Linked DNA regions of Homo sapiens: region 2 is linked to region 1. A link means that fine-mapping ties the variant in region 1 to the plasma level of a protein whose gene starts in the linked region. Region 1 holds a variant in brackets. A gene starts in the other region. All regions are shown on their forward strands.

Region 1 (3,619 bases):
TAAAAAATAAAGCACCTGCAGCAATCTTATAAGAATGCTTGGGAAAAACAAAGCAGCCTGGACTGCTTCTTCTCATTTCAGCATCTTTTTTATGCAAAATTTTCTAAAATAAGTAATTTATATATGTAATTATAGCCTATTTTGTTTAAAAATAATATGTAAGGCAGATACAAACAACTTCATTGCTCTTTTGGGTACAATTTTTTTTTTGAGACAGACTTTCGCTCTTGTTGCCCAAGCTGGAGTGCAATGGCGCGATCTCGGCTCACTGCAACCTCCACCTCCTGGGCTCAAGCGATTCTCCTGCCTCAGCCTCCTCAGTAGCTGGGATTACAGGCGTGCACCACTACGCCAGCTAAATTTTTGTATTTTTAGTAGAAACAGGGTTTCAGCATGTTAGCCAGGCTGGTCTCGCACTTCTGACCTTAGGTGATCCGCCCACCTCAGCCTTCCAAAGTGCTGGGATTACAGGCGTGAGCCACTGCGCCCGACCTCGGGTACAATTTTAAAAGAATTAGAAAAGATCAATAGGAAAAAAAGAAAATGAGACCGGGTGCAGTGGTTCATGCCTGTAATCCCTGGACTTTGGGTGGGTGAGGCAGGAGGACTGCTTGAGCTCAGAAGTTCAAGACCAGCCTGGACAACATGGTGAAACCCTGTCTCTACAAAAAACACAAAAATTAGCTGGGCGTGGTGGCACATGCCTATGGTCCCAACTGCTCAGGAGGCTGAGGTGGGAGGATCACCTGAGCCTGGGGAGGCTAAGGCTGCAGTGAGCCATAACTGCACCACTGCACTCCAGCCTGGACAACAAAGTGAGACCCTGTCTCAAAAAAAAAAAAAAAAAAAAAAAGAGAAAGAAAAAGAGAAAATTAAAATACCAAAATCACAGATTTGTGTTTTGTTGTCCATGGTATTTATTCCTAAATTACTCTTATTTTCACTGATCCTTAGCAGCAGATACGAGTGTGGAAGCATTTTTTTTCATCTTTGCATAAACAGTAATTCAAAGGACGCTTTGTTTTGATTCCTCAACTATTATCCTATGCCAATGCATTCTGTACATATCTCTCCATCTCCACAGGGACTGAGATAAGTTAGTTGTTTATGTACTAAGAATAAAGTAGAGCATTATGCCTGCTTGATAGAAAAAGCACAATAGTGAACACAATATGATATTAATCAAATGGAATCCAATTACTAGATTATAGAACCACATATGAAAAGATTCAGCTCTATCAGCAGTGAATTTCCTATCTCCTTTATAACAGACTGTGCCCCCTTTTTAATGTTCAAGGTCTAAATATAAATTCTTGATTTCCTAATGCTTATCTTCCCCAAAATAGTAAAGTGTGAAATAGCTTCACT[G/A]AAAGTCTGAAGAGACTTAGCATGTCATGACTCCACAAGAATGCTTTACATTTCTTATCAATTTGTTCAGACTCTATTTTATATAAACCTCACCTTTCCTATATCCCACTTGATTGAATCATAGCAAATATAAACTGATGTATTATCCTATACCCATGATTTAAGTCTAACAGGTTTGGATGTGACTTTTTTTCCCCCAAGCACATCCACCCACAGTGGCTTTATTCAGTCACATCCCCACCCCCACAGCTCCCTCCACCAGGCAGACAGGTGGGAGGCCACGCCACGGCAGTACCCGGGGACCATGGGCCAGCAAAGGGTCCCGGCCAGAGGGCACCAACCCCAGGAAGACACGGTCCCCACCCGGAGCTTCCCTGGGCTGCCTCGGCCCCTGAGCCCACCCTGAGGATCTGTGCTTTGACTCTGACAGGGAGCAGCAGGAAGCCGCCAGCCCACTGACCCCCTGGGTATCCTTGGAAGGCACACGGTGGAGTGGTGACTCCAGCTCCTGAGCGGCGCTTCCTCAGCTCCCATGCCCCTGCATGGTGCTGGGCTCGGCCCAAGATGTCCAACCGCAGTCTGGCTCTGACAAGGATGGTCACGGCCTAGCCACAGGGGCGGCTTTGCCCATCAGTCCCCCTGGGGCAGCAACTGGATCCCGGCAGGGGCAGAGCCGGGATGGGCCCTCTCTATGGGCTTAAGATCAATGTAGGCGGAGGCTCACTGGGCCAAGGCCAATGAACCCACTCATAGGAGCCCTCTGAGGGCACCGGTAGGGGGTCTGCTAAGGGCAGGTGCCCGTGGCCTGGAACCTGCCTTTGCCAAGGCACTGAAAGCGACTCTTAAACTCTATTAAGAAACTAATGATAGTATGTAGGAAGGCTTTGGGAAAAAATGTGGCTTCAAGGCCGGGTGTGGTGGCTCACGCCTGTAATCCCAGCACTTTGGGAGGCTGAGGCGGGAGGATCACGAGGTCAAGAGATCGAGACCATCCTGGCCAACATGGTGAAACCCCGTCTCTACTAAAAATACAAAAATTGGCTGGGCGTGGTGGCGTGCACCTGTAGTCCCAGCTACTCGGGAGCCTGAGGCAGGAGAATTGCTTGAATCTGGGAGGCGGAGGTTGTGGTGGCCGAGATTGTGCCACTGCACTCCAGTCTGCCAATAGAGCGAGACTCTGTCTCAAAAAAAAAAAAAAAAAAAAAAAAATATGGCTTCATGCTACTTAATTCAAATTATGAAATATAAGTGTCTTGTTACAAAAATACATTTAAATGAAGAAAATATAATGGACTCCATTAAAAACAATTACCAAAAATATATATATTGAAAGGGAAATCAAAGTTGGCTTGGATAAAGATAGGGAAGAATCACCATTCTTAATTTTTTCCATGTAATATTGCACCTTGTCCCTATAACGAACAAATGCACTAACTTAAAAAATCTAAGTGATCCCTCACTGCTACATTTTTCTGTGCAAAATTTTCAATATGGCAGAGAATTTGATAGTAGGCTTCCCTTTAGAGCTGGTTTCTGCCTGCTAATCTCTCTTAAACTGCCTCAGTCTTCCTTTCCCCTTTCCGTTAATTTTTAGGTGACTTTGGTTTCCCCTCACTTCTTCTCTCAAACTATAAAAGAAAGAAAAATTACTGAACACTTCTGAGTTGATTCTTTTCTTTTTTCCTTGAACCTCTATAACTTACATCATGCTGTTCCTTTAATATAGATACTAAAGGAATATATGTGTGTGTGTGTGTGTGTGTGTGAACACACACACACTTTTTAGAGACAGGGTCTCACTCTGTTGCCCAGGCTGGAGTGCAGTGGTGCAACCATGGCTCACTGCAGCCTCAAACTCCTGGACTCAAATGATCTTCCCACTTCAGCTTCCTGATTACCTAGGATTACAGGTGCATACCACCACGCCTGGCTAATTTTTTGTAGACAATCTTGCTGTATTGCCCAGGCTGGTCTCAAACTCCTGCTCTCAAGTTATCCTCCCACCTCAGCCTCCCAAAGCTCAGCCTCCCAGGCATAATCCACCGTGCCCAGCTTTTTAAAAATATTTTTTTTAACTTATGTTGCATATGGCCACAATCATAGTTAAAAAGAGATCAACATAAAAAAATTACCAGACCAAATGGCATGAGCCACACTAATACACTGAAATACTAATAGTCCTCATACAAGTCAAATTATTCTGGGCCATCAGTGAAAAAAAGAATTTAAGAATGAATGATCAAAGTTAATT
Region 2 (5,523 bases), not on the chromosome of region 1:
ATGAGTGCAGGGGAGACTATAAGATAAAAACCATTTACAACACTCGATCCATTTCTGAAATGTTTATACAAATTGGATATGAGAATGAGATCTGTCACCCCTCAATTTCAAAGAAATGTTCTATCTTAAACTGTTCCGTGGCCCCATATTCTCTTGCCAACTATCTTTGCAACAATGATATTCTCCATTGCACTTTTTTCAAGCATAAGAAAGGAAACTGTCCACCAGCATTAAGTGATTAATTATATATGCATGTTAAAAGTATATGCATATGCATGTGTGCATATTAAAAACTACAAGTGAGCACCTTAAAGATGCTCACCTTCATAGAGACAAAGTACCTTGCTAAGATAAGAAGGCTTAAAGGCAGACTGGTGGTGACAACTAAATCAGAGACAGCAGGCAAACATGCACAGCATCAATAAATCCTCCTGCCATCTGAATATATTCCACTACATAAAATTAACATTAGTTTTACTGCTAACAACTTACTAACTGGTGATTGGAAACCAGTCAAAGCTTCTCTGTTTTGTAGTATTGCCACAGTATAGCGATATACAGATCTGACAGTTTGGAAGCAGCAATTATATCTATATACTATTTCAGCATGAACCATATTAAGAGTTAATGAGAACTTCAAGTTGGACACTTAAATTTTGCAGTAAAAACAAAGCTGGAAGATGTGTACTGAATGTGTGAGAAGGAGTTAGGAACTTGTAAAAGAGAAAGATGCATATTTTGCAAGCAGAGAAAAGAGGCTATTAGTTTGTAATAACTGGGCATATATGAAATGTGACAGTGATAAAATTGAACATAAATCAGCAAAGGAAAGGCTACAGCTTGTTGTCCACGGCTAATCTTCTCTCTACTTGAAAGTGCTCAGCACTTTGCTCCTATTAAATGCTTTGTTGCCATTTTAAGGTACACTTGGGCTATCTGGTTGTGTTGTGAAGAATATTTAAAAGTTAGAGTTCTCCTGGAGAAATGAACTTAACATCTTCATGTCTTCGGGCTGACATTAATGACATCCAGACAGTGAGGAGGACATGAGGCTGAATGTTATTGTCTGTGGCGGCCACAGCCTGAATCTATTACCCTGCATATCAATTAGACACTCGGTGTCTCGGTTATCCTACTTTTAGACAGAAGGGCCACTTGCATGCATTCAGCCTTACTATTCATCTTATAAAAGTGTACAGCAATTTGCTATATTTCCCTGGTGGATACTGATCATTTTGGGGGTCCTCAAACCACATGTTTACTCTCAACTAATTTCAAGCAAGTATTCAAAGACCAATAATTCCCAACCCCACTCTTTATTATTTGCAAGCCAACATCCTTCCATTTAGTGAGGCTGAACCCGATCAGATTTCTTTAATGAACATTCACAAGGACCTCTCCCATTGCAACCAGTGACATGCACGTATTAGGCATCTTACAAATGTTGCACAAATTGATATGAATATTAACCTGCAGTCAACTTTCTCCCTAGTCCCATGACCCACAAATGGTTAAAACCATGAACCAAGATGCCAGGTTACTGCAGCCAAAGTCAGGTTACTGTTAGTAAACACATCTAGCAAAGCAAAAGTAACACATTTGACTTGATATTGAGATATAAGCTCTTTCAAAGGCAATTACTCCTCCTTTCAATCTCTGAAGGGCTCTGACTCATTGTTCTGATTAATTCCTGTTTTTAATCTATTTACAGATCAGGATTCTTTTTCAGCTAGTGTGATATTCATCTCTGTGGGGGTAGACAGAAACCACAGCACGTACAGTCTTCCTACTTTTTTTTTTTTTTTTTTAGTTATTCTTGCTTAATCATTTTAAAATTATTTCTGGATTTACCTACTCACCATATGAGCTGGGGTTTCTGACCTCCCTCCTGCACATCACGCCCTCCTTGTCTGTTGCTTTTTCTAGCTCTGTTTCCCTGCATCTTGGGTTGAGGTTAGCAGACTGGCTACCCCTTTCCCAGAGCTCTGTTCCCCTTTCTTTGCCTCTGAAAGGAGGTTTGCTGTCCTTACCGTAGCGGACACCGTTTGTTATTAAATAATACCTCTGGACACATCTCCTTGTTGTAAATCAATAAGCAAATGCAATACAGGGAAAGACATACGGATTGGAGAGTTGTACGGAGCTTTGCACAAGCAGAGCCCAGAAGCTGTTCGTTCATTTCACGCGACCAGAAAAAATTCCTGATGGTGCTATGACCCCGGTGCCCGGTTGGCACTTCCTGGTTTTCTGTTTCTGCTATTCTGTTACCTGCTTGGTTAGCTTTGCAGGCTCCTCAGAGAACACAGAAACAGCTGAAACCAGGGTCCGAGCTCAGGAAACCTGGACTACAGCGCAGCAGGGTAAACCTGACAAATAAACGCGACGGGGAACTCCGTCCCAAGCTGCTGATCTGTGAGTAGAAAGAAAATGCAGCTTAGAAAACTTGATCGCTAATGAAAGAATCGGCCACCCTAGCTTTCTCAGACCTGGGAATCTGGGCCTGGGGGGTGGTTCCAGCAAAGAGGTATCACATTCCCACATTCTGCATCATGCACCTGGAATTGTTCCTCAGCATCCCTAGGAGTCACAACTTTTTTCCCCCAACTTTAACTGGTCAAATCCACTGCGCGAAGGGCAAGCCCAAGGGACCTACCACTCAATTTTCAGCGCTCCAGCTGGGGATGCAGCCTTCCCAACCCGAAACCAATCCTCGCCCCAGAAGGGGAAAAATAATCTCCCCAGAGCAAGTCCGATGAGAGAAGCATCTTTTATTCTCGACCCGTCAGGTGCATTTCCCTGCAAACAAACTTCGGGGCTGAGGAGCCATGAAGCCAGGGCGTAAAGTTTGCCCTGGCAGGTGGCTCATCCCTGTGGCCCGGCCGGCGCCAGGAGTCGGGCATCCCGGACTTACCTGGTCTCTGCAGCTCGCCAGACGCCCGCCCCGACGGCCCACTCGCCGCCGCCGCCGCCGCCGCCGCCGCCGCCACCGCCGCCGCCGCAGTTAGTCCGGGCCCGGGGGGCCGCCGTGCGCGCCCGCGTAAGCCGCCGCCGCCGCAGGCGCAGCACCCTCGTCCGCACGGTTCCCGGCCCAGTCCACGGCGCCAGCCCGCCCGCCGCTGCCACCGCCGCCGCCGCCAAGCGCCAGGCTGCTGTGGCTGCTGCCGGCGCCTAGCGAGCACTGCCCGTGCCTCCGCCACTCCGGCTCCGGCTCCGGCTCCGACGCGGACGCTGGAGGGAGGGGAGACCGGGCGGACTGGAGGGAGGGAGGGGCGGGGAGCGCGGCGGAGCAGCCAACTGGGTCCCGAGCCTCGCGTCTGCGGCGCCCCCAGCGCCTCTGCGCCGGCCGGACCCCGCGCGGCCCTGCGCTCGGCCGCGTGCACCCACGTGTGTCCGGCCTCCGCAGGGCCCTGGGCGGCGGCGCGGGCTGGGCGGCGGTCACCGTGTCACCTCCGGGTGGCCTCGTGCCACGCAGTTAGGGCCCTCGGAACACGGGGTTAAGGCAGGAATTCCACTTCTAGAAAAGCCTCCTGCAGCTGCGCTCCCACAAGTGCGCAAAGATTGCCAATTTTAATATTAAAGCGGATAATTATTAAGGGCTCACTAGGTAGCAGGTCGTGGACTGCGCTAAATCAATTAGTTCATGCAGTCCCCAGAGCAACCTGGATCTATTATTATTCCCGGATTTAGTGATGAGGAAATTGGTTTGCTTAAAGTTTCAATGAGTCAGTTGTGAGAATAATCGCAACTATATTCTGTCAAGGACCCTGTGAAGTAGATCTTACCACCTTTATTTGCCCAAGTATACACACAGTGGTGGGTTGGAGAACCCGGACTTGAATAAGCCTGTTGCAGTCCTGAGCCTTTGCGCTGAACCGCTGGTGACTTACTTCCAGTCAAACCCGTGCAAACACTGCAACTTTAGTTGTACGAAAAACAGTTGGGAACAACCTACCTGTCCTTCATTAGGAGAGTGGCTGATAAAATACAGTGGAGACATACAGCGGCAGAGAGAAAGGTGCATCTACTAGTATTGGCATAAATGACCTCCAAGAGGTATCCTTAGAGGCTGGGCGGAGGTGGGTCACTCCTGTAATCCCAGCACTTTGAGAAGCCAAGACAGGTGGATCTCTTGAGCCCAGGAGTTTGAGACCAGCCTGGGCAACATAGGGAGACTTTGTCTCTGCAAAAAACAAACAAACAAAAAGTTTAAATTAGGTGGGCGTCATGGCACGCACCTGTTGTCCCAACTACTTGAGAGGTTGAGGTGGGAGGAGCACTTGAGGGATCACTCGAGCTCAGGAGGTGGAAGCTGCAGTGAGCCATGATTGTGCCACAGCACTCCAGACCAAAAGACTGAGGGAGACCCTGTCTCTAAATAAATAAAAAAATAAATAAACGGTATTGTTAGGAGAACTTGGGACATGTACTGTTGATCGGCACAGGAAAGTTGGTACCTGTACCGTTTTTGTGCTTACAAGCACTTACACACACACACACACACACACACACACACACACACGCACGCACCCTTTTGTGTGTATGTATCCATATTTATGCATTCACAATTTCTGAAAGGATGTCTAAGGATACTGTTAACAATTGTTAGTCCTAGTGAGTGAGACTGAAATTGGAGCAGAGGAGACTTTATACTTTTCATTTTATAATTCTCTGACATTGTTTTTAAAATGTATCACGTTGTCCCTTCATATTAAATAATCTAGTCACATTTAATTAGACTTGACAGTTTATGGCCCTGTTTCCTCTCCTTGATCCTCTCCCTGTGATTCCTGCAGATGGAATGAAGCAACACCTCATCAAGAGAAGCAACCTGGGCAAACCAGGCCTGGTTTAACTGCACTTTCTCACGTTTGATCATTTTCTCAAGAGATACGTGCGTGGTCCTCTGCAATTCAGAATGAAATCTGAACTTCTGGAAAAACTCTCCTAGAGGGGGTTTGAGGACAAGAGGTAAGACCCAGGTCAGTCAGATGCAAGGTGCCGCTCCCTACAGCAAAGTCAGCATGTAGGCCCCCTGCATTTCCAATTGCCACAAAGAAGTTGCTTGGTACTTTGGAAGACTGAGGTGGGAGAATCCCTTGAGCCCTGGAGTTTGAGACCAGCCTGGGCAATACAGTGAGACCGCCTCTCAACAAAAAATTTAAAAATTAGCTGAGCATGATGGTGTGTGTCTGCAGTCCCAGCTGCTTGGGAGGCTGTGGCAGGAGGAGATCGCTTGAGCCTGGGAGGTCCAGGCTGCAGTGGGCCATGATTGAACCACTGCACTCCAGCCTGGGTGACAGAGCAAGACCCTATCTCAAAACAGAACAACAACAATAACAAAAAAAGAAATTGCATGAATGGCTTGACCAGGTGATTTTTCCCTAGTCCCCCTTACTCTATGAGCATACAACAGGATTCTTGAATACATTAGGGAACTTCTGGCCACATTTGCCCTCTCTCACTTTATCAGGAAACTGCTCATCCCTACAAGAGTAATAGCTGGATTACAAAAAATTCCGGGGT

Direction of the effects. Alleles are on the strand shown, and positions count from the first base shown. The strength of an association depends on the size of the effect and on how common the allele is.
For the plasma level of the protein whose gene starts at base 3,180 in region 2, A is the high allele of the variant in region 1 and G is the other (moderate association).

Evidence for each region. PIP is the chance, under the fine-mapping model, that this variant and not a neighbour inherited with it causes the effect. The UK Biobank Pharma Proteomics Project read protein levels with antibody pairs (Olink). The fine-mapping took linkage between variants from a reference panel, not from the people measured, so its PIPs are less certain.
Region 2: it holds the start of CNTN3, and the variant in region 1 is fine-mapped to the plasma level of the CNTN3 protein (UK Biobank, PIP above 0.99).

Annotation. Positions count from the first base shown.
Region 1 is chr15:42,985,160-42,988,778 of GRCh38, forward strand. The region is part of intron 35 of UBR1 (ubiquitin protein ligase E3 component n-recognin 1); the gene reads right to left. Among named protein-coding and RNA genes, the nearest start is that of TTBK2, 66 kb to the left of the region's middle. The variant G/A (reference allele first, on the strand shown) is at 1,369.
Region 2 is chr3:74,611,480-74,617,002 of GRCh38, forward strand. CNTN3 (contactin 3) reads right to left here and starts at 3,180. Exons shown (of 23, transcript NM_020872.3): 1 at 2,912-3,180. LOC105377166 (a long non-coding RNA gene) reads left to right here and starts at 2,324. Exons shown (of 3, transcript XR_007096257.1): 1 at 2,324-2,412; 2 at 4,794-4,968.